Linked DNA regions of Homo sapiens. The protein of the gene in region 1 interacts with the protein of each later gene in a biochemical or structural test. Each region holds a gene or a part of one and is shown on either strand. Other genes may lie near its edges.

Region 1 (7,030 bases):
CTTCCCCGCATCCCACTGGAAAAGGGAAGGTAAAACTCACCTTCTACTACAACTGGAGAGGAGGCTGGGAAACAAACAACTTTAAAGCAAAATACCCTGATTGACTGTTACTAGGTAGCAAAAAGAAAGAGGTGAAAAGGAGAGAGAAGAGGTGAACAAAATAGTAATATGGATGGCGAAAGGAGCAAGAAAACAAATTTGTAAGGTATATGAAAAAGAAATCAGTTGGATCTATATGTAAGGTTGTGTTAAAAAAAGTTACATTGCTTAATAAGTGTATAATATATTAAAAATTTTAAGGTATATGTGACTGAGAATGACAGAATGTCGCCAATGATTGCTCTAACACATTAAAAGCTAAGCGCCAGTTTAAGTGTTAAAAAATTCTCAAAACCTGAAATTCTGTCACCAGTACAGAATCTATATAAGTAGCTACAAAGGAGGTGGGAAGGGGATTAAAATGTTCAAAGCATAAGTATAGACTTGTTCTTTGTATCTAATTATGAAGTGACCAGGTGAACGAATTCTGGGGTCTCATCCAAACATCCATCTCTCCACATTATTTCTCACTAAGAAAATACTTGGTAACTCGCCCAGAGTCCACTGACAAGCAAGGTCTAAATTAACTGGAACACACTGGCTCACCTTTTCTTTAGCAATTCTGTAACTTTCTTAACATTATTAAATTAGGGAAGAAGCGTTTTTAGTTAGTCTGTCTAAATCTTTAAGACCTGCAAAAGTCAGAAAGTTAGTGCTTATAGTGCAGATTTGGGAAAGTACCAAATAGCTCCACTAGCTCATACTCAAAGGGTAAGGATGGGCAAAGGGGACAAGCAACAGTCTTGCACAAGAGAAAGATGGTGGGAAGGAAAAATGAGGAAAACTTCCAATATCCTCAACTTTACAAAATGCAAGTTCTTAGTTATGATATAATATTCACTAGTATTCACTCACATATGTTCAATTTTTCTTTTTTTCTTTTTTTTTTTTAGAGACAGGGTCTTGCTGTCGCTCATGCTGGAGTGCAGTGGCATGATCATAGCTCACTGCAGCCTCAAACTCCTGGGCTCAAGCAATCCTCTCATCTCAGCAGGTGCAAGCCACTATGTCTGGCTAACTTTTGGAGTTTTTTGTTTTTTGTTTTTGTAGAGATGGAGTCCCAACATGTTGCCCAGGCTAGTCTCAAACAATCCTCCTGCCTCAGCCTCCCAAAGTTATGGGATTATAGGCATGAGCCATCTCACCTGGCCAATATGTTCAATTTTTGAAGTCTCCCTTGTCTCCGAAATTCTGACTTCCTATTCACTTACTTTAAGTCCTATCTCTGGAGGTACTAGATAATCCGTTGAACCTGTTGATAGTTAACTGGTTACATTTTAAGTCGTGTGTGCCTCACTTTTTTATATCTGGGTGAACTATCTGTACCCTGGGGCTTAATTTGACATGATCCTCCATTTATATTTTCCCCATTACAAGTAGGGGTAAATTTGAGTCTTTTTCATTTTTCCTGGCCCCAGGCAAGTTTAATTAAATCTTAGAATAAATATCAAGAATAATATTTATTTAAGAATTTAAATTCTTAATTCTTGACACTGATGAATCAATATCAAAATGCATAGGACAGAATGCTAGTAAGCCTATAAAAGAAATAAAGCTACATGAGGGTTTTTCCTCCTCCTTTTTCTCTCTACGTATCTCCTACCCTCGTTCCCACATTTGCCCCTCATTCTCACCCTCTTACCTCAATTTTAAGATCTTTTATGTGGCCATAACTTGAAACCTACAATTTACTGTTCTTACCAAATACAGTGAGGTAAGCGGCTGTTTAGGATGTGTAAGTGTTTATAAAAACAAAAAGCAAATGGTGTTCGATAAAGTAAAAAACAAAATGAAGTGTGTTAGGAGACCAGAGTTCTAGTTCCAACTGTGAAACTGAAGTCATTTCACTTGAGTCCTAGTTTTGTCATTTTTAAATAAAGAATATTATCTTAAGGGTTTGAAAACAGTGTGCCTAAATCTAATTTTGCTTGTGTAATGGCCATTATGAGGTTTTGTAGTTATCTCCATTCCCATTCCTCTAGGTTGATAATATAAATCAGAGAGGGTGTGGGGCCGGACATAAGTGGTTTCCTATCTCCTCAGTAGTTGCTTCTGATTCCCTGGACATTCTGGATTTTTGCACTGCTGAAAGTGCATTATGAACTACAATATGAACCCACACTAATGTAAAGAAAATCAGAGCTGCCTTACTGGGTCATGCCCATAAGACCGTGCTACAAAGTCTTTCCTCTGTCACAAGCATGAAGGGTCTATTTGTCTGACACCTTCAAACTTCCAACTTCAAAATTCTGGCATGTGCCTTAAACCACAGCTACCCATAGTATATCATTATGGCTCTAACATGTAAGGCGTTATCTAAACCTACCCTAAATTTGTATTTTCATTGTACTCAGAGCAAGTTCCCCAAGATTTATTTCCTGATGGTTTATTTCTTTCAGATTTCCTTATGTCAACTTTCTGAAACTATCAAAAGGGAGCCACCCTAAGTTAGCAATTCCAGGTTGTTAGAATCATCCACCAGTCAGGAGTTGATAAAATACTCATCAAATCCCTTCCACACTTTTTAAATTCAAGTGTCCTCATAATGCCAGCTCTTTTTCTCTCTTTGGGCAATGACCACCTTATTTATTCTTTGGCCACAAAATTAAATGCCACATTACCTTCTCAAGCCTGTTTAATGAAGCACAGTACACTGAGACAGTAACTTACAATTATGTTCCTTCGGGCAAGTATCTAACTTCTATGAGCCTCAATTTCCTCATTTGTGAAAAATAAAATAATACCCAAAAGAGCTTTGTGATGATTAAATGGGAAAATATATCTAAAATGTCCAACCAAAAGCCTGGACTAAAGCAGGTTATTATTATCACAGGCACTATTATTCCTGTTCTCTCCCTCATGGGAGCAACGATTATGGCACCTTCCCTATCTTTCTGGTGCTCACCAGACCAGCTTAACCTACACAAAACCAGTCTTTCTCCTTTCATTCACAGTCACCTTGAGAGAATTAAAAGGGAAGGACTCCAAACAGCCCTGGAGATCCACACCCCACCCTCTACACCTCTGCCACAACCCTTCCTAGGCACAGCCTGGTATCCTGAGGACTCTAACAACCCCAAAAAGATGGATGCTTCCCCATGACAGGCACATAACCAGATCCCAGGGAAACTGCCAAAATCATCAGGGGAGCTCCTTAATGTCACTGATTTCTTCAGCAAAGCCAGGCAATAAATAGACATAGGCATGTCAGATATATATACATCTGACATATATATATCTCAGATATATATGTCTGGTAACACTTTGCTTGATTCCTCTTTTTTTAAATGTTTGAACAATTTGGTGTCTGTGTGTGTGTGTGTATGTTCAGATATATATGTCTGGCAACACTTTTCTTGATTCCTCGTTTTTCAATGTTTGAGCAATTTTGGGTAAAATGAAATACAATATAGCTCGAAAAAGCTGCTGTGATGTCCATTTTAATCCTCTTTCTCCGTGGTGGAGAATAATGTGTTGTTCTTAAAGAACCAAGCTGCATACAATGTAATTGTTTTCTTCATTCAAAAGGCCCACCTTGAGTTGTGTAAACTACTGGCTAATCATCTCCCTTTCACTGTGTAGCTACAAGCAAGGCCAGTCTTACGACTTGAATACTTTCTATTAATTTAAGTACACATTAAACTCCCAACCTTACCGAGCATGAAGAGACACCTGAAGATTTTCTAGAGTTGGGAGGAAACAGCTAGAAGCTAACCCACATCCACTAGCAAAAATAGTAATTTGCCCAGATTACAAATTTAGCCAGAACGACAACATTTGTTAAATTTTATGACAAATGAGTTCCTTTTATATATAGTGTTAAAAGGATTCTATTACCTTTCAAATCTGCAATGGTTTCCTCTAATTAAAGTCTTCTACTTACTTGGAGATTCCCAATCGAAATGTCTCCAGATTCAAAATGCCACTGTAAACCCTCCAGCAAGTTTAGAACATTGTAACATGAAGTGCACCATTCTTGGAGCACCAAGGCTCCAAAATCATCTCAAAAGGTGGCTGGTTGCTTGGAGCTTCCGCCCCCTGACTGAAACCTAAAATAATCTCTCTCCTCCATTCCTGAATCTGCATCACTTCTGGCAAAGATGCTTCCTTCAGACCTGAATGGCCGAAATGACTTAAAGAGGCTCAGAGAACCATGCAGTAGAGTAGTAAGAGGAGCAAAGGCTACCAGTCACCCAGGTGGTTAAAACCTACCTCTTCCGGAACAAATAAACGTCTACCCCCTCATCTATGAAGGGGACTATGTCCACTTACCTTTAAAGGGTGGTTGTGAGCATCAAATTAGGTAGGAACAGTGAAAAAAGTTGTTAACTGTTACTTTCCCTTTCTTTTTTAAGCCTCAATTAAAGTTTCTCAGGTTGTATCATTGGAGCCATCTGCACTTCCTAGAGACTACAAAGGAGACTGACCTCGATTATGTAGAATGGAGTTAGGATTATGATATCCAGACCCCTAAAAATAAGGAAACTCTATGGGCTCACATCAATCCAGCTTCTCAAATTAGTGAAAGAAGAAAAATTTACGAAAAAAGAAAACGACTCAAAATACAGGGTTAACTAATATCCCATCTTAAACAAGTTTCAGCACACATTCAGGCTAGTAAGGTATTTTAAAGGAAAATGTGAGAAAATATGTATTCTAAAAGTGAGGTGAGATGTTTTTCCACTTTTTTACTTTAATACTAGGGTTGCTCTAATTTTTAAGGGAACATAAGAAGAAATGCAGTCTGAGCTTTGAGGGGGGACTAATTTGCTGAGGTGAACTTGTATGAGGTTATGTTAAACAGTAAAAGAAATGTTATGCAACACACTGGGAAGGGCAAGCAGTTCTGGGGTTTGAAACTCTTCACTGTCTGCACAAATCAGTTCTTTAAAATTAAGATAAAGGTCTCCCATGGTTCTCGAAAACCAGACTAATTAGTAAAAACAGATAAACAAAATCAAAAGCAGGACATTTCATATACATTTTATATTCAAATATTTTTGGGAGAAATAACTACATTGATTTTAAATCTCTTGACTTTTTCTTAACAGATATACTTCATTACATTTTAAAGTACTGGGCGTGTTTTCTAAAGCAGAATCAAGCTATCATCTTTCTACTTAAACTGATACATAAAAATGCTCAGCTAAGGGTAAATAGCTAAGGACTCGACTGGTCACAAAGTTTTCTGTAAATCAGAACTTTAAGAGAATCAGAGGCACCTACAACATATACTTTCTAACTATTTCTTGTAACAAGTATTTTACAAATGGCTCAATGTTTTTCTGAATCAATTATAGATTCTATTCTAACCATTTTAAGAAAACATCTATTGAAAACTGACATTTCTCAGCTAAGCGATCTTTGAAATCTATTACATTTTAAGTGATTAGTAGCTACAGCAGGCAAATAATCATGTCTAATAACAATCTGTATATACTTATAGATATTCTATAATTTTCAAAGCACTTTCACATGCATTAAGAATGTGATTCTTACAATGGCCCTACAGGTTAGGCATTATCCCTATTTTAACAGATGAGAAATTTCTGAACAGAGAGTTGAGAAAAGTTAGGGAATTTCCCTAAAATCTCAGTGTTTGTAAACAGCAGAGCAGTTACCTTAACCATGGTTTTCTGAGTCTAAGTCCAGTGCTCTTTACACTTCAACATCCTTTTGTTTCTTAAACATTACTACATGCTATGGGAACGCTAGCTGCTACAGCTACTACTGGAAAAGGAATCATCCTGCCTATGCAATTTCATTATAGAAGCTGTTGAATTCTCAACTGGCAAGCTCTATTAATCAGAATATGCTATTCTCTAACATGCCAACCATACTATCTAGTACTATTTGCTATACATATCTAAGATTAATTACCTGGTATAACGGGATCTTCTCTTTACAGGATTCACACTAACCCAGCTAAAGTCACGAGGCTTTAGATTTGCCACAAGGGAAAGCCCTAGCCATGGCTAGGAAGGTTCTTGAATGCTACAAGTCAATTCCGTACTTTAGGTTGGCTAAAATTTCTTGGACTAAAGAATAATACTTTTCCACAGAATGAGGCCCTAATATGCAAGAAATTTTCCTATTAAATCTATCTACATTAACAAATTATTGATGAAACATTAAGAATAAAAACATTTCTCAGAGTAGTTAATTTGAGTATTGTTTCCTCTCTCAAATGCAAACTCATCCTAATGCCAAATATACTTTCATAAAACCACTTACCTAACTTGGCAAACAGATCTACATTTTGTTAGCTTTAGTCATCAAAGAACCAAAGCCTAAGAACTACTCAACGTATAAAGGTTGGGTGTGTTTGTGAATGAACATGAAAAAAAAATGAGTCAGAATGAGTGAAGACACTCAAATCTTTTGAGTAATAACAAAATTAGCAGCTATTCCCTATTATCTGAGGGACAGTGGCAAAAATGGCCAGATTAGAAGCCATAACTGTTAGCATAAACATGCAACCAAAGCTACGTCTGTTGATTACTCTTATAATCAAATTCACTATAAATCCCATTCCAACCATCTACCCATCCCCTATGAAAAAAATGAGTAGAGCAAATTGATAGCTAGACTTCTGTTTCATATCGTTCACATTGTAATTCATTTGAGAGTCCTCAGATCCAGAAAAAAACAGATCCGGAGTTTGAAGTAGAATAAAATCTCATCTAGGATACTCTGAAAGGACTGCTCAATAATGAAAAGTGGGGAAATCAACAGGTTAGAGAGAACAGTGGGACCTAGTAATATGAACTAAAGAAATTGTGTGGTAAATAATGAGAGGTTAGGGACTCATTTACCAATAGTAAAAGGGACCATTAATGAGACCATAACAATATTGTCGCTACTAACAATGATGGCTAATGTGTATTGCATCCTTACTACATGTCAGGTCCCAGGCTTACATGCATTCTCA
Region 2 (5,070 bases), on another chromosome or scaffold:
GGTGGGTAGAGCCAGAGCTGCTGACTGGTCTCTCTGCCTCCAGAGGGGATTTATTGGACCTCAGAGGTGGCAGGGCCCTATGGAGCACCAACTGCCCTCAACCCCACCCTGTGCCCAAGACTGGGAAGGGATTGATGTCAGGCTGTGGCCATAGGTAGCATGAGTTGCCCAAGGAGGGACAGAGCATATCTTTGCTGAGGCTTGGCTGAGGGGCTTATGATAGGGCTTGCAGTACCTCACAGCCCCCTGTGGGCACAGACACCCTGAGGTTTACCCAGGCAAATATATTGATTAGCAGGACAAGGGCTCTCTCCTCAGTTTCTGCTCCCTTCCATCTCTCTCCCATACTTGTCTGAAAAGGGAGACAAAAAATCTTATACAAGTGGCATCTCAATCCTTTCCAGTCCAGCACCTCCTGGGGCAGGCAGTGTGACTTATTTCCTGTGGTGAAATCACCTGTTTCACAAGCCTGGCAGCGCGACTTCTGAGTCTCATGACCACTCAACCCAAGGGACCCCTCCCCAGACCAGAACCAAGTCAGCTGGGGGCTGTCGTACTACCCTGTCCAGTCTTGAGGGCCTAGTTGCAGGTCCCCCAGGCATCCAGCCCCTCCTAGAGCTTGCTGGGCAGGCTGCACCTCATCTGGGCAGGCGCAGAGCTGATGAAATGCTGGAGCAATGCATGGCAAACATATGCCCTCCAGTGTCTTCTGAAACCTTTGGGGCTGACACAAGATCCTTTAGTGTTTGGGATGACCTCTTTCCTGCAGACTTCTTCCCCTATCCCTAACTCATGCATGGAAAACGTTTGTCAGGCTGGTTTCCCGAGCCTCCTGCACCTCAACATCACGCTCACCCTTTTGGGTTTAGCCCAGTGTTATTTAGCAAATTTCTCCAGCTGCAGGGAAGGATCAGAGCACTATCTTTTTTTTTTTTTTTTCTCCTGGAGCCAGGACTGCACAAGGCAATGGCCAAATTTAGTTGAATTCAGCCTACCATCCTTTGCTGATGACTCAGCTCTATGCCAAGTACTGGAGCCACAGAGATGGGTCAGTCCCAGCCCCTGTCCTCAGGAAGCCCATGGTCAGGGAAACGTTGTAGGGATAAGTAATAGAGGGCAGTTGCCTTCAGGGCTCCTGGTGGCTGCTGGTCCCTATGGTGCCTTGATGTGAATTAGAAGACGGTGCCCTTTCCAGGTGGATTCAGACCTACACTAGAACGCACAGCTTTGGGAGTGACACACAGGTTGGATTTTAGCACCCCTTGCCCCTTGGCCAGAGGTGCCCTGCTGCACGGCCATACGCTGCAGCCTCGAGGGACACACAGGCCAAAGTGTTTCCTTCAGCCTCTTCCTGGAGAGGAAGCCGCAGGTCATGTTTCCAAGCTTCTGGTCAACTCCAGGCACCACCTCCCAGCCCCCAAACATGGCCGAGCCAGTGCTTCTCTGCAGGGCCCCTTTCCTTTCTGGAGTCAGCCTGCCCAGGTGATACCTTGAAGTGAAACTAGGGGTGGGGGAGCCTCACTAGGCCCCAGGCACCATCCCACAGTACTGGCGGTTTCTCTGCCAAGTGTTTGGGGCCTGCACTGGCCAAGCCATCCGTCACTGGGACTTTGCAGTGTGCCCTGTGGGTGGCGTGTGGACACCGGTCCGGGCAGGAAGGAAAAGCATGCCCCGGTGAAAACCCACCGAGCAGAGAGCCAGCGGGACCTCCTCAGCATTCCACCCAGGGGAAGAGTTCAGTCCCCATGAAGATAAGGACTGAGTTATTTGGCTGCACCTCTCCTCAGCCTCAAAGCTCAGACCTGCTAGAGTGGGTTCACCTGGCTGTTGGTTCTGTGGGAGAGTTCCTGACAAGCTGGTTCCTACATGGTGCAGTGAAAGGAACTCTGTCCTGGAAGTCCCCAATGCCGCCTCTCAGTCCTGCCTGTCACCAACCACCTGGGGGGCTTGGGCAAGCTACTCAACCTCTGGGGCTCAATTTCCCTAACTGTAAAATGGGATTGTAATCCCTTCCCTGCCTGACGCAGGAATTGTTATGAGGCCCAGATGAGATGAAAGTCAGCGGTCAGGGCTCTGTAAGTTGAAAATGGCTGGATGTGTGTGGCCCTGCCACTGCAGGGATGGCCCAAGGTCACACAGAAAGTTTGCTGCAGGAGGAGCCCTCCCCACCAGTCTTCATCGCTTGCCCTGCTTCTCACTTAGGCAGATGTCAACCAGAATGAGATACAGCCAATTTGGCTTTGATGACCCAGCTGAGAGGGAAATTTAGATACAATTCAGGAATATCATGCCCAAAAATAGTGGTCCCAGCAACCAGGACACAGAGGGAAGACCTGGATATTGTCAGTGATTGGTGGAGGGGGACATCTTGGACCCTCCTAGGCCTGGTGTCACATCTCCCATCTCTCAGACCCCACAGAGGCCAAGGGGCCTTGGCTCTGACCCAGGTTAAAGAGAGCCACCAGCCCCCAGGCTCAGGGAGCTGAAACCACCCATCCGCAGAAATCTAAGGGCAAGGAGAAATAGAAATTGTCTGTTCCTTCCCTTCAAAGTGTAAGGCCTCTTCCAGGAGCAACTGGAGCCACCACAGCTTCTCAGTGACATTGGGAGGGCTTCGGGCCCAGGAAAAACCCAAGCCTTTTGTCCTGAGAGCCGAGCCACAGCGGATGCAGTGGCGTCAGCATCCCAGAGCGGCAGCTTCTCTCCTGCCTGTCACTGGGGACTGGTTGCTCTCCACCCATCCAGGAGGAAGGGGTTAGGTCCCAGTCTTACACTCTTATAGGGTCTCATGGACATAGGCCTATGCCTGTTCTGATATCTATAATTTTTTAAACTCAAAAGGACCAAAACACTCCTGAACCCTCATCTATACGGCCTGCACTGGGCTTGGTGTTTCCTCCTGGCCCAGGCAGCTCCATCTCTTCTGCCATTCCTCCTGGACGAAAGTGGCAGGACCCCACCTCTACCACTTCCCCACAGGGTCACTGCACAGCGGCTTCAAAGACACGCCCTGTTGAAGGGGAAACATCCTCCCCCCATCACACTCCAACTCGTCACCCCAAAAGGGAAGTCAAAGCACAGGTCCGTGGGGCCTATGGTTTGTAGACACTGACACAGTGGTTTTCAAACCAGGTGCTGCGGAACCCCTGATATTCCACAGAGCTTTGTCAGGGGATGCTAAAGTGGGAAGATGGGAGTGGAGGCAAAGGATAGGTTTCCAGCCCTCCTCCCATTTCCGCCGCCACCAGAATAACTCTGCTTTTATCTGTCTTGCCTACTGAGATTTCATTTTCAAGCTTTCTTTGAAGAAGAACTTCAAACCACCATCTCGAGGTTTGATCTTAGACCAGCCAGCACAGGTTCTATTCTTGCTGTTCATGTTGGAATGGCTCCAGCGTTCCAGTACAAAGTGTCTTTGTGTTGGAACTTGGGTCACAGACCCAGGCACAAGCATTTATACACACACACACACACACACACACACACACACACACACACGTACATAGTTGATGGTTTTTCTAGCCAACCCACCCTGAAGCTCTGGCCAAGGTTTGATTTGGACAGGGACCTGGTGCTCAGTGGGGATGGGTCGTGACCCTGATATTGGCCCATGAAGCATGGGGAGCTCTGGAGCAAGGAAACAGGCTCAATCCCCCACTGAGGACTTGTGTCTGCACCCCTATCTGGCACCCCACTTTCCTGGCCTAGGCCCAAGGGACACAGCAGGAGAAGCAGTGTGATAGGAGAGAGGCTAGGGTTAAATTCATCTTTACACAGCGCCGGATGGATGGAAATCTTGGCTCACATAAAAGACAGACTCAGGGAGGATTTTATGACAAAAGTCCCTCCTTTGAGGGCAGGATTCCCCCAGGAATCCTGGACACTTTAGTGAGAACTGGACCAGCCCTTGGCACAAAACCCTGCCTGCCCTGTCCCCCACTCCCACCCCCCAGGGAATTCTAGGTGAAAATGTGAAGCTCAGGGCACAGCAAGCGCATGACACGGGTGTATTACATTCGGTCCGAGTGTGTCCTTAGTTTCCCTGTGTGCAAAATGGGGCTAGTCCAGGCTCTTCCCACCTCACTGGGACAATTGCAAGGGTCATAGGAGAGGTGGGTATGATAGGTGGTCATATGAGGTGGTGAGTATGAGAGGTGGGTGCCTCACAAACTCGGGGTATGGTCCTGACCTGCATGGCAGATGAGCAGAGCACTTGGGAACGAGCATAGGAAGTGCCATCTTCCCGGGCATCTCTGCTCAGTGTTAAGGTCTAGCCACAGACACTGTGGGACCTGCCTCTTCCTATGGAATGGGGGCCTGCATGGGTTGTGTCCTGGGGCAGGAGTGAGGGATGGCTGGGAAGAATCTCCAGGTCTGTGGCCCTTGTGTTGAGTGATTATTTTGTGACACTCTCATTCCTGGACCACCTGCCAGGTTTATCTGTTATACCTGTGGCATTCTTATTATGTCAGACAAGTTATTATAGTTCATTCAACTCTAACAAATGAACAAAAGAACAATAAATAGGAGGCCATTAAAGGTCTTTTGTGGCAGAGGATGCTGGCTGTGCTTTCATTTCTGTCTCATAAGCCCATGGCAGGTCAAAGACCAAGAAATGCCTCCCTGCTGCCCTGGACTGGCAGATGGGGCTCATGACTGGGTGAGGTGCTCTCTTCCCTTGTCTGTGGCCCCAGCTCCAGCCTGGTCCTTGTACCAACTTCTGGAGACTGCCAAAAACTTTTCTCCTGTCCCTCTTCTGCCACTTTTCAGCCTTATGGCCTTGGGAAGCTGGCATACCTCTCATCCCTCTCAGATACCACAGGATTTTGTGACCCATGGTTTGCTCCTGGGGTGAAGCCATCCTATCTTCTATCTTTGGCACCACTGACCACATCAGTGGGAGTCCTCACCCCAGCCCCAGCCCTGGTTCTTGTTCACTTCTTATCTCCTGCCCTGCTGGGTCTTCCTGAAGTCACTTCAGTTTTCAAAGACTTATGTGCCACCTGGTCTAACAGAACATATGGGAGGAGTAAGGATATCAGTGAGGAAGAGTCGATGTTCTAATAGATA
Region 3 (7,575 bases), on another chromosome or scaffold:
TATCAGTTATGCAAGATGAATAAGTTCTAGAGATCTAATGTACAATGACACGACTATCGTTAATAAGATTTTATTGTATACTTGAAATTTGTTATAAGGGTAGGTCTTAAGTGTTCTCACCACAAAAAAAAAAAAAAGCTCCCCAACTCATTGAATAGGGCTAGCATTCCGCCAATGTCAAAACTAGGCAAGAATAACACCAGAAAATTCCATTTATGAAAACAAATGCAGGCCAGGCACAGTGGCTCATGCCTGTAATCCCAGCACCTTGGGAGGCCAAGGCAGGTGGATTCCTTGAGGCCAGGATTTGGAGACCACTCCGGCCAACATGGCAAAACCCCATGTCTACTAAAAATGTAACAATTAGCTGGGCACAGTGGCATGCGCCTATAGTCTCAGCTCTGGAGGCTGAGGTGGGAGAATCGCTTGAACCCAGGAGGTGGGTGAGCTGAGATATCACCACTGCACTATAGCCTGGATGACACAGCAAGGCTGTCTCAAAAAAAAAAAAAAAAGAAAAGAAAAGAAAAGAAATGCAAAACAACCCTAAATAAAGTATTATTAAATCAAATCCAGCAATGGTGAAAGCAAGAAAGAGGAGATAATCAACATTAATGGATTAAAGGCAGAAAAACCATCTGATTGCATAAATAAATGCATAAAAAGCATTTGATAAAATGTAACACCTGCATTTAAAAAAGAAAGAAAGAAAGAAAGAAAGAAAAATCTCTAGCAAGTTAGGAATAGAACCTGATAAAGGACTTCTACTAGAAATCTACTGAAAGCATCATATTTAATGATGAAACCTTAGGATCATTCCCTTAAATGTCTAGGACAAGACAAGAATTGTCCATTAATACCACTGCCATTCAACATTGTATTGGAACTCCTAGCCAAAGAGGAGAGGATTAAGAAAAAAAGCATAGACATCAGATTTTTTAAAGCTGTAATTTTTTTCTTTTTTCTGGACAACAGGATCATCTAGCTAGAAAATCGAAGAGAATTATCTGTCAAGCTATTCTAGAACAAGCAAGAGTGAGTTCAACAAGGCAGCCAAATCCAAGATAATTTTTTTTCTTTTTTTTTTTGAGATGGAGTCTCACTCTGTCACCAGGCTGGAGTGCAGTGGCGCAATCTCGGCTCACTGCAACCTCTGCCACCCGGTTCAAGCGATTCCCCTGCCTCAGCCTCCCGAGCAGCTGGGATTACAGGTGACTGCCACCATGCCCTGACTAAATTTGTATTTTTAGTAGAGACAGGGTTTCACCATGTTGGCCAGGCTGGTCTTGAACTCCTGACCTTGTGATCCACCCGCCTTGGCCTCCCAAAGTGCTGGGATTACAGGCGTGAGCCACCGCACCGGGCCCAGAGACAACCTGTTCTGCAGCCCATTTGCTTCTTCCAGAGTCTCCCTCTGTCGTCCGGGCTAGAGTACACTGGCTCGATCTCGGCTCACTGCAACCTCCGCCTCCCAGGTTCAAGCGATTCTCCTGCCTCAGCCTCCTGAGTAGCTGAGATTACAGGCACCTGCCACCACGCCTGGCTAATTTTTGTATTTTTAGTAGAGATGAGGTTTCACCATGTTGTCCAGGCTGGTCTCAAACTCCTGACCTCAGGTGATTTGCCTGCCTCAGCCTCCCAAAGTGCTGCGATTACAGGTGTGTGAGCCACCGCCCCCACCCTCTATTTGCTTCTTTGAGATGAATCACCCCATAAATGATTGGTAAACAGAGTAATGATGTCAGCATAACACAAGCATGTTGGTTAACATGCAATTTTCTCCAGGAAGTTAACATTTTGAAGCAATCAGGGCCAAGCTTTCTCACAGTTAAAGGGGAAGCCTTAGTACTAAAAGAAGATCTTCAGAGGAAAAAGCTGCAAATCTACAGAAGTGTCTTCCTTTGGATCCACGGTGGCTGGTTTAGTGACTTCAAAGACCACCATATTTGTCACAGTGTTATGCCTATGGCAAATCCATGAATGCAGATGAAGAAATTGCAAATATATTTCTCCCATATTAAAATAACAGATTAATGAAAAAGATCACACCTTGGATCACATTTCGAGTTTTGATGAAAATGATCCCCATCAATAGTTAATATCTCCAACCAGCATCCCCAAAGAGGAAGCATAAGCCCCACCTTCAAGGCTGCAAAGTGCTGCTGAAAGCAAATGCTCATGGAAATTTACCTATTCTAGTGTTTCTATTAGCATCATTATTGGTTTTGTAGCACTCTGAATATAAAGTTGTATACAAGAGGCCGGGCATGGTGCCTCACACCTGTAATCCCAGCACTTTGAGAGGCCAAGGCGGGCGGATCACGAGGTCAGGAGATCGAGACTATCCTGGCCAACATGGTGAAACCCTGTCTCTACTAAAAATACAAAAATTAGCTGGGCATGGTGGCGCCCACCTGTAATTCCAACTACTCGGAAGGCTGAAGCAGGAGAATCACTTGAACCAGGGAGTCGGAGGTTGTGGTATGCCAAGACCGTGCCACTGCACTCCAGCCTGGCAACAGAGTGAGACTCCATCTCAAAAAAAAAAAAAGTTGTATACAGGTTTTTATTTTTACTTTTTTTTTTTTGAGTCAGGGTCTCGCTCTGTCTCTCAGGCTGGAGTGCAGTCAGTGCCACAATCACAGCTCACAGTAGCCTCGACCTCCTGGGCTCAGGTAATACCCCTATACCTCAGTCTCCCGAGTAGCTGGGAACACAGGTGCACACCACCACACCCGCCTAATTTTTTATTTTTTTGTAGAGACGGAGTCTCCCTATGTTGCCCAGGCTAGTCTGAAACTCCTGGACTCCAGTAATTCTCCCTCCTCGGCCTCTGAAAGTGCTGGGATTACAGGCATGAGCCACCGTGCCCAGCTAGTTGCATATATTTTGAGCAATCTGTCTCTAACTCTATTTTTTCCATGAAGTCTTGTTAATTTTAGTGCACCGTTTTGAAGAACTGAAGGTTTTTTAAGAATGCATATAGCAGGTTATAGCAGAAACACTTATACTCAGAATGAAGCTGGGGCTCTCTCTTCCAACAAGCATTTTTGATATGCTCCGAGTGTCCCTGCTAGGTAGCCAGGAGACCAGGTAACCCACTTCCCTCTGACAATGGAACAATTCCCCAAGGACCCTGAGGGGCAGTTCTCTGGAGTTTGGGCACTAGAGTCCCTCTTATTTCCTCTTCTTCTCTCCTCCCTCTAGACCCCATACCACTCAGGAGAGGCCAAGTAAAAAGACCCAGAATTTTGCCTCTTACAAGCTTAGAGATCTTGAAGAAGTCACTGAACCTCTGCGGGACCTACTTTCCTCATTCTTTAAATAGAAAGGCAGTGGGTTTTTTGTTTGTTTGTTTTTTGTTGTTTTTTTTTTTGTTGTTGTTGTTTTTGTTAATCGTGGCGATGGTTATTTATTTATTTATTTATTTTGAGACGGAGTCTTGCCCTGTCGTCCAGGCTGGAGTGCTGTGGCGTGATCTTGGCTCACTGCAACCTCCACCTCCCAGGTTCAAGCGATTCTCCTGCCTCAGCCTCCCGAGTAGCTGGGATAGATTACAGGCGCACACCACCACGCCCGGCTAATTTTTTTTTTTTTTTTTAAATAGTAGAGACGGGGGTTTCACCATGCTGGCCAGGCTGGTCACGAACTCCTGGCCTCGTGATCCGCCCGCCTTGGCCTCCCATAGCGCTGAGATTACAGGCGTGAGCCACCGCGCCCGGCCTGGTTGTTAATTTTTAAAACTGCCTTTCATTTTTGCTTTGCCATTTATAGCTCTGTAGCCTTGCACAAATGACTTCACTTCTCTATGAGTCATCTGTAAAATGGGGCTCTTTGTGAAGACTTAACGATACCACGTGTACAAAGCACTGAATACAACATGCACATTAAGCTCCCCGAAATTGAAACTCCTATAAAATAGGAATCGGGGATTCTCAAGAGCAGGAGTTCTGACTTCAGCAGAGGAACCCAGAGCTGGTGGGGAAAGCAGACGTGGCTGTGACATCCCCAGGGACACTAAACACATCCTCCCAGCCCCATCTTCCCCGCAGAGTCCCGCCACCGGCCCGACCCCTAACTTGCTCCAACCACCCGCCGACGCCCGCAGCCCGCTGTTTGGGGGCCGCCCCCTGCAGCGCCAGGTCCCCGCGCGGACTACAGTTCCCAGCGTACATCTCGGTCGGGGGGTCCGAGGGGCCGTCCTGCCTCAGGGATAAGGTCCAGGCTGCGTTCGCGGCTCCGGGCAGTCACAGTCATGCACGCAGCTCCTATTTTTCGCGTTGCTAATCGCGTCCGTTGCAGTCCAACCCATCCTGGGCCGCGGCCCCCACAGGGTCTGTGAGGAGCGCTTCCCCCCGCCCCGGGCGCCCGCTACGCCGCGTCCGAAGGAGGGGCCGAGGCCGGGCTCATCTCCCCGGGAGGACTCCTTCGGCTTCGTGGGGTGTCATGTCCATTGCGGCCCGAGGCTGGCCGCGGGGCTCTGCTGGAGGGCGCTGAGAGCCGGGCCCCGAGGCCGCACGGCCGGAGACTACAACTCCCAGGAGGCACCGCGGCGGCGGCGCCCACACGTCACTCGGGCCCCGCCGGTGGCCCGGGGAAGCAGCACGGGCGGGGGGCAGGGGCTGGGGCCGACCGGGAGGCCGGTGCCAAGGATGGGGGCCGCCCGGCTGCCCCGCGCGTGAGGAGGCCGAGGGGCGCGCCACCCCGGCCCGGGGCGGCCGCCCCAGGGGCCCCGCCACCCCCGCCCGGCCCGGCAGTCGTGGCCCGGGATGCGGAGCCGGGGGCCGCCGGTGGAGCTGCGCGGGGTGAGCGGCGCGGGGAACGGGGACTGCCTGCCGCCCTCGCCCTCGTCCCCCACCGGCGGACCCCGGCGGGCATTCGAGAGCCGCGCGGCCAGGCCCTCTTAGCCCTCTGCCGTTTGGGGGGCACGGGTGAACCTGCCGCCCCACTCCCACCCCGCCCCGCCCCGCCCGTACAGCCAAATCGGAAGGGACGAGCCTGCCCTTTGAAAGGGTTTTTTTTCTTGCTCCTGCGGAGGGCGCCCCAGCCATGGCCCTCAGGAGCTCCCTAGACCCCGCAGGGACTGCCCTCCATCCCGGCCGCCGGGGCCCGCCCTCTGCATCCCGCGGGCAGCCTGTGTGAAGCGGCCTCCCGCAGCCCCCGGCCCCTCCCCCATGGAGGAGGAGGAGGGGGCGGTGGCCAAGGAGTGGGGCACGACCCCCGCGGGGCCCGTCTGGACCGCGGTGTTCGACTACGAGGCGGCGGGCGACGAGGAGCTGACCCTGCGGAGGGGCGATCGCGTCCAGGTGCTTTCCCAAGACTGTGCGGTGTCCGGCGACGAGGGCTGGTGGACCGGGCAGCTCCCCAGCGGCCGCGTGGGCGTCTTCCCCAGCAACTACGTGGCCCCCGGCGCCCCCGCTGCACCCGCGGGCCTCCAGCTGCCCCAGGAGATCCCCTTCCACGAGCTGCAGCTAGAGGAGATCATCGGTGTGGGGGGCTTTGGCAAGGTCTATCGGGCCCTGTGGCGTGGCGAGGAGGTGGCAGTCAAGGCCGCCCGGCTGGACCCTGAGAAGGACCCGGCAGTGACAGCGGAGCAGGTGTGCCAGGAAGCCCGGCTCTTTGGAGCCCTGCAGCACCCCAACATAATTGCCCTTAGGGGCGCCTGCCTCAACCCCCCACACCTCTGCCTAGTGATGGAGTATGCCCGGGGTGGTGCACTGAGCAGGGTGCTGGCAGGTCGCCGGGTGCCACCTCACGTGCTGGTCAACTGGGCTGTGCAGGTGGCCCGGGGCATGAACTACCTACACAATGATGCCCCTGTGCCCATCATCCACCGGGACCTCAAGTCCATCAACAGTAAGTGGTGTCCTCTCCCCAAAATTCCTTCCACAGAACCTCTCAAGGCCAGGCCTAGGTGGTGGGAAACAGGGTGAGGGACACCAGATGACACTGTGCCTGGAGTGAGAAGGGGCAGCAGTATGATACCTTCAGGGTGAAGGTGAGGTAGGCCTTGCCTGCCTTAAGGGAGAAAAAGGAGGCTCAGAAAGGTTGAAGGACTTACCTGCCTCCCAGGCTGCAGAGTCACAATCGCTCAGTAAACATGTATCCATGAACACCTGCGTTCCCTGCATGAACAGGACAGATGCAGTGCCTGCCTTCAAGGTGCTTGCCATCCAGCCATGCTGCCAGAGTCCACCAGGCAGAGACAAAAAGAGCCTACCCCGTCTGGAGTCAGTGTCTCTCAACCCCAGCACTATTGGCACTTGAGGCCAGATCATTGTTGTAGGGGCTGTCCTGTAAATTGTGAGTTGCTTAGCGGCATCTTTAGCCTCTTCCCACTAGATGTCATTAGCATTCCCTGCCCCCTCTCCCCAGCTATGACAACCAAAAGTGTCTCCAGGCATTGCAAATGTCCCCTGGGGGGCAGAATCACCCCCAGTTGAGAACCATTTCCTGGAGTCTTCATAGGCCGAGCTGGCCAAGGCAAACTGGAAAAGATGAGGGAGGAATTAAATTGATGTGGCTTATATAAAAGCTTCCAGGCTGCCTGATAGGTTCTCCAAAGTTGATTGGTTGGTTGAATAAATAATGGAGCCAGGTAGAAGGGAACATTCTGCAAGACTCATTTCTAGATGGAAGAGCTTCATGTGGTGTCAACAAGTATTAATTGAGCACCTATTAAGCAGGAGCCCAGCTGGGAGTAAGACAGCCATGGTTTCTGCCCTGACAGTACTCACAGGCTAGCAATTTCATTCATTCATTCCACAGATATTTCCAGAGTGCTGTGTGCCAGACCCTGTCCCAGGGATACAGCAAGAAAAAAAAAATCTTACATTCCTGGCTCTCCCATTCGTGCTGTGCCCCATCTCACTCCCTTTCATTTCTTCATTCATTTGTTCATTCTTCCATTTGGTATTTACCAGGCCAGATCATGTGCTAAGCAAAGGCATCAGCAGTGGAGAAGGCCAGCATGTCCCCGGCCCTCACGTCACTCACAGTTAAGCCCCAAAATGTGAAGGTGCCCCCTTTGCTCTCAACACCCACATCTCATCTATTCCTGATTTCTGTCACTTCTACATCTTGAAATTTATTTTAATCCATCCCACTATTTTTAGGAATATATTGCTATTCCCCACCCATAGCAATTGTAAGCCCCTAGAATAGAGGGACTGCATCTTCCTTGCCTCCCAAGCCTGACATTTGTATATCAACAGAGAGCTTGGCTGGGCGCGGTGGCTCACGCCTGTAATCCCAGCACTTTGGGAGGCCGACGTGGGTGCATCACCCGAGGTCAGGAGTTCGAGACCAGCCTGACCAATATGGTGAAACCCCTTCTCTACTAAAAATACAAAAATTAGCTGGGCATGGTGGCATGCATCTGTAATCCCAGCTACTCAGGCTGAGGCAGAAGAATCGCTTGAAACCAGGAGGTGGAGGTTGCAGTGAGCCGAGATTGCACCACTGCACTCCAGCCTGGGTGACAGAGCAAGATTCCATCGCAAAAAAAAAAAGCTAACATGTGACCACGATGTGCCAGAGCTGGTGCTGTGTCTGGGGAACTGATGCTTATGCCCC
Region 4 (6,995 bases), on another chromosome or scaffold:
GGGGCCTGGGCCCCATCGTTCTCAAGCTTGCCCCATGTTTTTTTATCCAAAGAATTTGTTAATTATTTATGAAGAGAAACTACTTATTAGCCCATATATTCATGAATAGTTCAGATCAGTGACAAACTTCTAAGTAATTCAACCCAAAGAAATTCTTCATATTCCAAAATCACTTTGCATTCTGAGAGATAGCAGCCTTCCTCATCTCCTCGAAGTATTTCATGGCATCATAACTTCTGTAGACATCTGTGCCCATAGAAATCTGAAATGCCTTCTTTCTTGGTCCAGCCCCTGCAAACTGAGAGAGCCGCAGCCCCCAGGGATACAGTGAATGCTCCCACAATATGAAATTGCAGATGTGTGGCCAGAAGGCCACATGTCTGAGGTTTCATGAAAGCACTGGAAACCATGGTAGTTACTGTTCTTGATAAGTATGTCGGCCTCAACACCAGTGCCCTTCCTGGCTGATGAAGAAATGGATTGCCACTTGCCCTGAAAGGATGTCAGCTGCCCAGCTCAGTGGCTGGCTGAGCATCTGGTTCCCCTAGCCCAATCCCACACTCCACGCATCATCTGGGTCCATGAAAGTACATGACATTGACCTCACAGCCACCCCCCGAAACCCAGCTAAGAATCAAATAATGGGGCTTCACAGAGGTCCCAGACCCTGTGAGATGGTCCCCGGCATAAGCCATACCACTGGAGAGTCACACACACCCTCACCCTGTCCCCAGTGGGCTGTTCTGGTCCCTGGAGAGCTGGCTGCAAGGAGTGGCACATTGGCAGGGTGCACTCAGCTACGCTGATAGCAACTGCCCTGTGAAGCTTGTTGCCTTAGAGCCAATAACTACGTGGCTGTGTCCTCCCTGTGAGACCTCACGGAAGCAGTTTCGCCTCTATCTATCTATCTTTGGGTCAAGAATAGTCACGCAGCTTTCTCCTAAACAACAGAGTTGCTAACTCTTGCTGCCAGGAAGCTTAGAGGCAGATTCAAATCCTAGCTGGATTATGTTGACCAAGTCCCTTACCCTTCAGAACCTCAGTTTCTCAGGCCATTGACTGCAGGAACTTCTGTTCACTCTCATTTTGTCTGCTGGACCCTATCTTCTCTTCCCTTTGTCTCATTTCTGTCTTTTATTTTTTTAAAGATAGAGTCTCATTCTGTTACCCAGGCTGGACTGCAATGGCATGATCATGGCTCACTGCAAACTCTGCCTCCCAGGCTCAAGTGATCCTCCCACCTCAGCTTCCTGAGTAGCAGGGACTACAGGTGCATGCCATGCTTGGCTAATTTTTATATTTTTTGTAGAGATGGGGTTTTGCCATGTTGCCCAGGCTGGGCTGCGCTTAAGTAGTCCACCCACCCCAGCCTCCCAAAGTGCTGGCATTACAGGTGTGAGCCACCACACCCAGCTTGCTCTTGCTATTTTCTTTTTTTTTTTTTAGAAGGAGTCTTGTTCTGTCACCCAGGCTGGAGTGCAGTGGTGCGACCTCAGCTCACTTCAGCCTCCACCTCCCACGTTCAAGCAATTCTCCCTCAGCCTCCCCAGTAGCTGGGATTACAGGCATGTGCCACCATGCCCAGCTAATTTTTTTTTTTTTGAGATGAAGTGTCATTCTGTTGCCCAGGCTGGAGGGCAGTGGTGCAATCTCGGCTCACTACAACCTCCACCTCCCAGGTTCAAGTGATTCTCCTGCCTCAGCCTCCCAAGTAGCAGGGATTACAGGCATGTGCCACAATGCCCGGCTAATGTTTGTATTTGTAGTAGAGATGAGGTTTCACCATGTTGACCAGGCTGGTCCCGAACTCCTGACCTCAAGTGAGCCACCTGCTTCAGCTTCCCAAAGTGCTGGGATTACAAGCGTGAACCACCATGCCCGGCCTAATTTTTGTATTTAGTAGAGACAGGGTTTGACCATGTTGGCCAGGCTAGTCATGCACTCCTGACCTCAAGTGATCTGCCCTACTTGGCCTCCCAAAGTGCTGGGATTATAGGCTTGAGCCACCACTCCCAGCCTCTCTTGCTTTTTTTTTTTTTTTTTTTGAGATGGAGTCTCACTCTGTCACCCAGGCTGGAGCGCAGTGGCGGGATCTCGGCTCACTGTAACCTCCGCCTCCTGGGTTCAAGCGATTCTCCTGCCTCAGCCTCCCAAGTAGCTGAGACTACAGGTGCGTGCCACCATGCCCTGCTAATTTTTGTATTTTTTAGTAGAGACAGGGTTTCACCATGTTGGCCAGGATGGTCTCGATTTCTTGACCTCGTGATCCGCCCACCTTGGCCTCCCAAAGTGCTGGGATTACAGGTGTGAGCCACCGCACCCGGCCAACTCTTTCTTTTTTTTAAACATGATTTCCCCTCTTCTGTTTAAACTCACTGTAAATGATCAGTTCTTCACCTGCGAAGTGGGGGTGATATGATAACCTCGTGGTTGGTGCAAGGATTATAAAAATGGATTCTTCATCAAACAAGAATTTGCTTTTTTTTTTTTTTGAGACGGAGTCTCGCTCTGTTGCCCAGGCTGGAGTGCAGTGGTGTGATTTTGGCTCACTGCAAGCTCCGCCTCCTGGGTTCATGCCATTCTCCTGCCTCAGCCTCTTGAGTATCTGGGACTACAGGCGCCCACCACCACGCCTGGCTAATTTTTTGTGTTTTTAGTAGAGACAGGGTTTCACCGTGTTAGCCAGGATGGTCTCGATCTCCTGACCTCGTGATCATCCCACCTGGGCCTCCCAAAGTGCTGGGATTGCAGATGTGAGCCACCGCGCCTGGCCCAGGGATTTGCATTTTAAGAGCCAGGCATCAACATGTTAAACACTGCCCTGACCTCATATGATGAAGCAGGCAGACTCATAAACAAGTCCAGTAGCACCTCTATGAGGCATAACGTGAGCAATAACTGTGTAGGTTCAGGGAGATTCTGGGAGGGCTTCACAGAGGAAGTGACATCCCAGTTGGTCTTGGATGGTGCATAAGAGGTCACTGAAAGCCAAGGTGGGAAAGGTCAGCCACCCAGAGTGAATAGTGTGTGCGCAGGCATGCAGCTCACCATACCCAAGGAAAAGGCAACCTGGCTGAACTCCGAGAAGAGTTGAGAGCCGAGGAGTCTCAGGACTGGGGCTGCGGACAGGGGCCAAGGCACATGGGTCAGTAGATGTTGATTGAATGAATGAGTGAATGAAGCTGGAAGTGATGGGTAGTTTTTAAGCAGAGACCTGTCTTTAACAGGTTTGCATTTTAGAAGGATTCCCTTGTCCCTTCAGTGGCAGTGGCCGGGGTGGGAGTTGGGTGAGGTAAGAGGCAGAGAGTCTGAGTAAGGGTTGGGGCTGACAGAAGGGACTGTGAGCTAAGTCCTGGTTCATAGTAGAAGCTCATTTTTCCCAGCCTTGTATTTCTCCCTCCCGACATCCAACCTGCTGCTGCACTCCAGGCAGGAGGGGAAAGGCAGAGGGACAAGGCCAGGGAGGGCTTCAGAGGACCAGCCAAGGAGGCCAGACTTTCTCCTAGTGACAGTGGAGAGCCACAGCAGTTTCTAGAGCCAAGGAGGGATCTGACAAAATCAGGGCTTGTGAGAGCCCATCCTAGAGTCCCTTGTCCTTAATGAGGGGTTCCCCATCCCTGCCCAAGTGGTCTAGAATGGAGTCAGGCCAACCCTAGACTGGAAGGTAGGACACTAGTGTCTTGAAATCTAGGGCAGAGTCTGGCTGGGAAATGGTGGAGAGCAAAGGTTCTACTGCCCTTGCCTGGGGTGAGGCCGGCTCCACCTTTCACTGGCTGTACAGCTCCGCACAAGCCCTCAACCTCTCTGAGCCTGGAACCCCTGGGGCATGAGAATCAGACAACATAATGCCCCTATGCCATTCAGCTCAGGCCTGGCACAAATACATACTCTGTAAATTAGCTGTGACCTTGGGCAAGGTACTGACCCCTCTGAACCTCATTTTCCTCCTTTCTAGAATAGAGACAGGGATTTATGCCCTCAGGGCTGCCATGTACCTTAGAGTTGACTGTGTGCATCTTATAAGCTACAGCTGGAGCGGGGGTGGGTGGGCAGAAGGGGCAGGGCTGCCAAGCCAGGAAGCTGGTGGGCACAGAGCACAGGGCGCCGGTCCCAGTCAGTGGGACCTGCCATGCCCCTGGGCCTGGAGGTTGCCCCTGGCAGGCCACAGAGGCCCACTGTGACCTGGCCCCAGCCTGCCTCCACTGGGACTGCCCATCCATCTTTCGGGTCTGGGGTCGCTGGCTGCCATTGGGCTTTGCTGCCGCTTCCTCCACCTGCACTGCCCTCCCCTCCCAGTGCCCATCTTGTGAAAGGCCAGAATGTGGGTATGTGATGGGGAGGCCATGGGACCTGTGGGACCAGGGAAGATGCTAGTAGAGGGCAGAACTCAGTCCTTGTTCCAAGACCACGGAGAGGTCTTGGGCCCTCACCCGGAATATGCACCAGCCACACCCTCACCTGTGCCGCCTCTGCCCGCAGGTAACCCCCCGCGGCCTAGCCTGGAGCCCGAGGAGCCCAAGAGGCCTGTCCCCGCAGAGCGCGGTAGCAGCTCTGGGACGCCCAAGCTGATCCAGCGGGCGCTGCTGCGCGGCACCGCCCTGCTCGCCTCGCTGGGCCTTGGCCGCGACCTGCAGCCGCCGGGAGGCCCAGGACGCGAGCGCGGGGAGTCCCCGACAACACCCCCCACGCCAACGCCCGCGCCCTGCCCGACCGAGCCGCCCCCTTCCCCGCTCATCTGCTTCTCGCTCAAGACGCCCGACTCCCCGCCCACTCCTGCACCCCTGTTGCTGGACCTGGGTATCCCTGTGGGCCAGCGGTCAGCCAAGAGCCCCCGACGTGAGGAGGAGCCCCGCGGTGAGTGGCCTGAAGCCGGCCTGCTTCACATATGGGAGACGGGGGTTCCCAGGGAGGGAGGAGTGGCTGGTGGGGACATGCAAGGAGGCAAGGCCGAGACCACAGTCATCAGCTGGACCCTGAACCAGGCATTCGGGGTACTGAAGACGCATGTAGGGAGCAGAGTTCTAAGTTCAGCTATCAGGTGGTCCAGGCAGGTGGGGGCGATGCCTGCTGTGAAATAAAAGAAGTAATCGGGCCAGGCAGTGGTGCACGCCTGTGATCCCAGCACTCTGGGAGGATCACGTGAGCCTTGAAAGGTTGAGGCTGCAGTGAGCGGTGATCATGACACTGGACTCCAGCCTGGGCGACACAGCATACATGTAATCATAATCGTAGCAAACTCCTGGCTCCTTACTTGTGCCAAGTACTGTTTGCAAGGCTTTCCCGAGATGGTCTCATTTAGTCATAACAACCAGAGAACTAAGCGCTCCTGGATGCCCATTTTTAGATGAGGAAATTTAAGGCACAGAGATTAAGGGACCCACAGCTCCCACAGCTAGTAAGTGGCAGGGCCGGGATCCACATCCAGGCCAGCCTGCTGCAGAGGCCTCACTCCTAACTATTACAAAAAACAGAGGCACCACGGAGCAGGAAGGGCGGTGGAAGTTGAGTCAAGTAGGTCACTGTGCACATGGGGAAACTGAGGCCCAGAGCAGGACAGTGTCTTGGGGACCTCAGCAGTTGGGGGTTGCTTGACCCTGTGCCCCTCCTATATCCTCACAGGAGGCACTGTCTCACCCCCACCGGGGACATCACGCTCTGCTCCTGGCACCCCAGGCACCCCACGTTCACCACCCCTGGGCCTCATCAGCCGACCTCGGCCCTCGCCCCTTCGCAGCCGCATTGATCCCTGGAGCTTTGTGTCAGCTGGGCCACGGCCTTCTCCCCTGCCATCACCACAGCCTGCACCCCGCCGAGCACCCTGGACCTTGTTCCCGGACTCAGACCCCTTCTGGGACTCCCCACCTGCCAACCCCTTCCAGGGGGGCCCCCAGGACTGCAGGGCACAGACCAAAGACATGGGTGCCCAGGCCCCGTGGGTGCCGGAAGCGGGGCCTTGAGTGGGCCAGGCCACTCCCCCGAGCTCCAGCTGCCTTAGGAGGAGTCACAGCATACACTGGAACAGGAGCTGGGTCAGCCTCTGCAGCTGCCTCAGTTTCCCCAGGGACCCCACCCCCCTTTGGGGGTCAGGAACACTACACTGCACAGGAAGCCTTCACACTGGAAGGGGGACCTGCGCCCCCACATCTGAAACCTGTAGGTCCCCCCAGCTCACCTGCCCTACTGGGGCCCAACACTGTACCCAGCTGGTTGGGAGGACCAGAGCCTGTCTCAGGGAATTGCCTGCTGGGGTGATGCAGGGAGGAGGGGAGGTGCAGGGAAGAGGGGCCGGCCTCAGCTGTCACCAGCACTTTTGACCAAGTCCTGCTACTGCGGCCCCTGCCCTAGGGCTTAGAGCATGGACCTCCTGCCCTGGGGGTCATCTGGGGCCAGGGCTCTCTGGATGCCTTCCTGCTGCCCCAGCCAGGGTTGGAGTCTTAGCCTCGGGATCCAGTGAAGCCAGAAGCCAAATAAACTCAAAAGCTGTCTCCCCACATGTAGCCTGTCACCTTTCTTGGAGGTAACCAGGTGACCCAACCTATCATACAACCCTGGTGTCCTGATGCCCCAACAATAGGCAGTTGGATGCCTTGTACTGCATGCCTCTCCTGGGACCAAATCCACCAGCCTTGGTCAGTCATTCAAGGCTCTTCTCGGCCAGGTGCAGTGGCTCACTCCTGTCATCACAGCAGTTTGGGAGGCCGAGGCCGGCGGATCACATGAGGTCAGGAGTTCAACCTGGCCACATGGTGAAACCCCATCTCTACTAAAAATACAAAAATTAGCCAGGTGTGGTGGTGCATGCCTGTAGTCCCAGCTACTCTGGAGGCTGAGGCAGGAGAATTGCTTGAACCTGGAAGGTGGAGGTTGCAGTGAGCCAAAATCACGCCACTGCACTCCAGCCTGGGCAACAGAGCAAGACTCCGTCTCAAAAAAAAAAAAAACAAAAAACCATAGGCCGGGCATGGTGGCTCACGCCTGTAATCCCAGCACTTTGG

The links.
Region 2: the proteins of MAP2K4 (region 1) and ARRB1 interact in a test that uses a peptide from one of them, tested with the Homo sapiens proteins (one study listed by BioGRID and IntAct).
Region 3: of the proteins of MAP2K4 (region 1) and MAP3K10, one has a biochemical effect on the other in vitro, tested with the Homo sapiens proteins (one study listed by BioGRID).
Region 4: of the proteins of MAP2K4 (region 1) and MAP3K11, one has a biochemical effect on the other in vitro, tested with the Homo sapiens proteins (one study listed by BioGRID).

Annotation. Positions count from the first base shown.
Region 1 is NC_000017.11:12,023,877-12,030,906, reverse strand, and holds part of MAP2K4 (dual specificity mitogen-activated protein kinase kinase 4), read right to left. Parts: intron 1-7,030. UniProt on the Homo sapiens protein: Dual specificity protein kinase which acts as an essential component of the MAP kinase signal transduction pathway. Essential component of the stress-activated protein kinase/c-Jun N-terminal kinase (SAP/JNK) signaling pathway.
Region 2 is NC_000011.10:75,259,610-75,264,679, reverse strand, and holds the end of ARRB1 (beta-arrestin-1), read left to right. Parts: 3' UTR 1-4,558; downstream 4,559-5,070. UniProt on the Homo sapiens protein: Functions in regulating agonist-mediated G-protein coupled receptor (GPCR) signaling by mediating both receptor desensitization and resensitization processes.
Region 3 is NC_000019.10:40,186,858-40,194,432, forward strand, and holds the start of MAP3K10 (mitogen-activated protein kinase kinase kinase 10), read left to right. Parts: upstream 1-4,568; 5' UTR 4,569-5,174; coding exon 5,175-5,856; intron 5,857-7,575. UniProt on the Homo sapiens protein: Activates the JUN N-terminal pathway.
Region 4 is NC_000011.10:65,597,253-65,604,247, reverse strand, and holds the end of MAP3K11 (mitogen-activated protein kinase kinase kinase 11), read left to right. Parts: intron 1-4,479; coding exon 4,480-4,854; intron 4,855-5,619; coding exon 5,620-5,957; 3' UTR 5,958-6,491; downstream 6,492-6,995. UniProt on the Homo sapiens protein: Activates the JUN N-terminal pathway. Required for serum-stimulated cell proliferation and for mitogen and cytokine activation of MAPK14 (p38), MAPK3 (ERK) and MAPK8 (JNK1) through phosphorylation and activation of MAP2K4/MKK4 and MAP2K7/MKK7.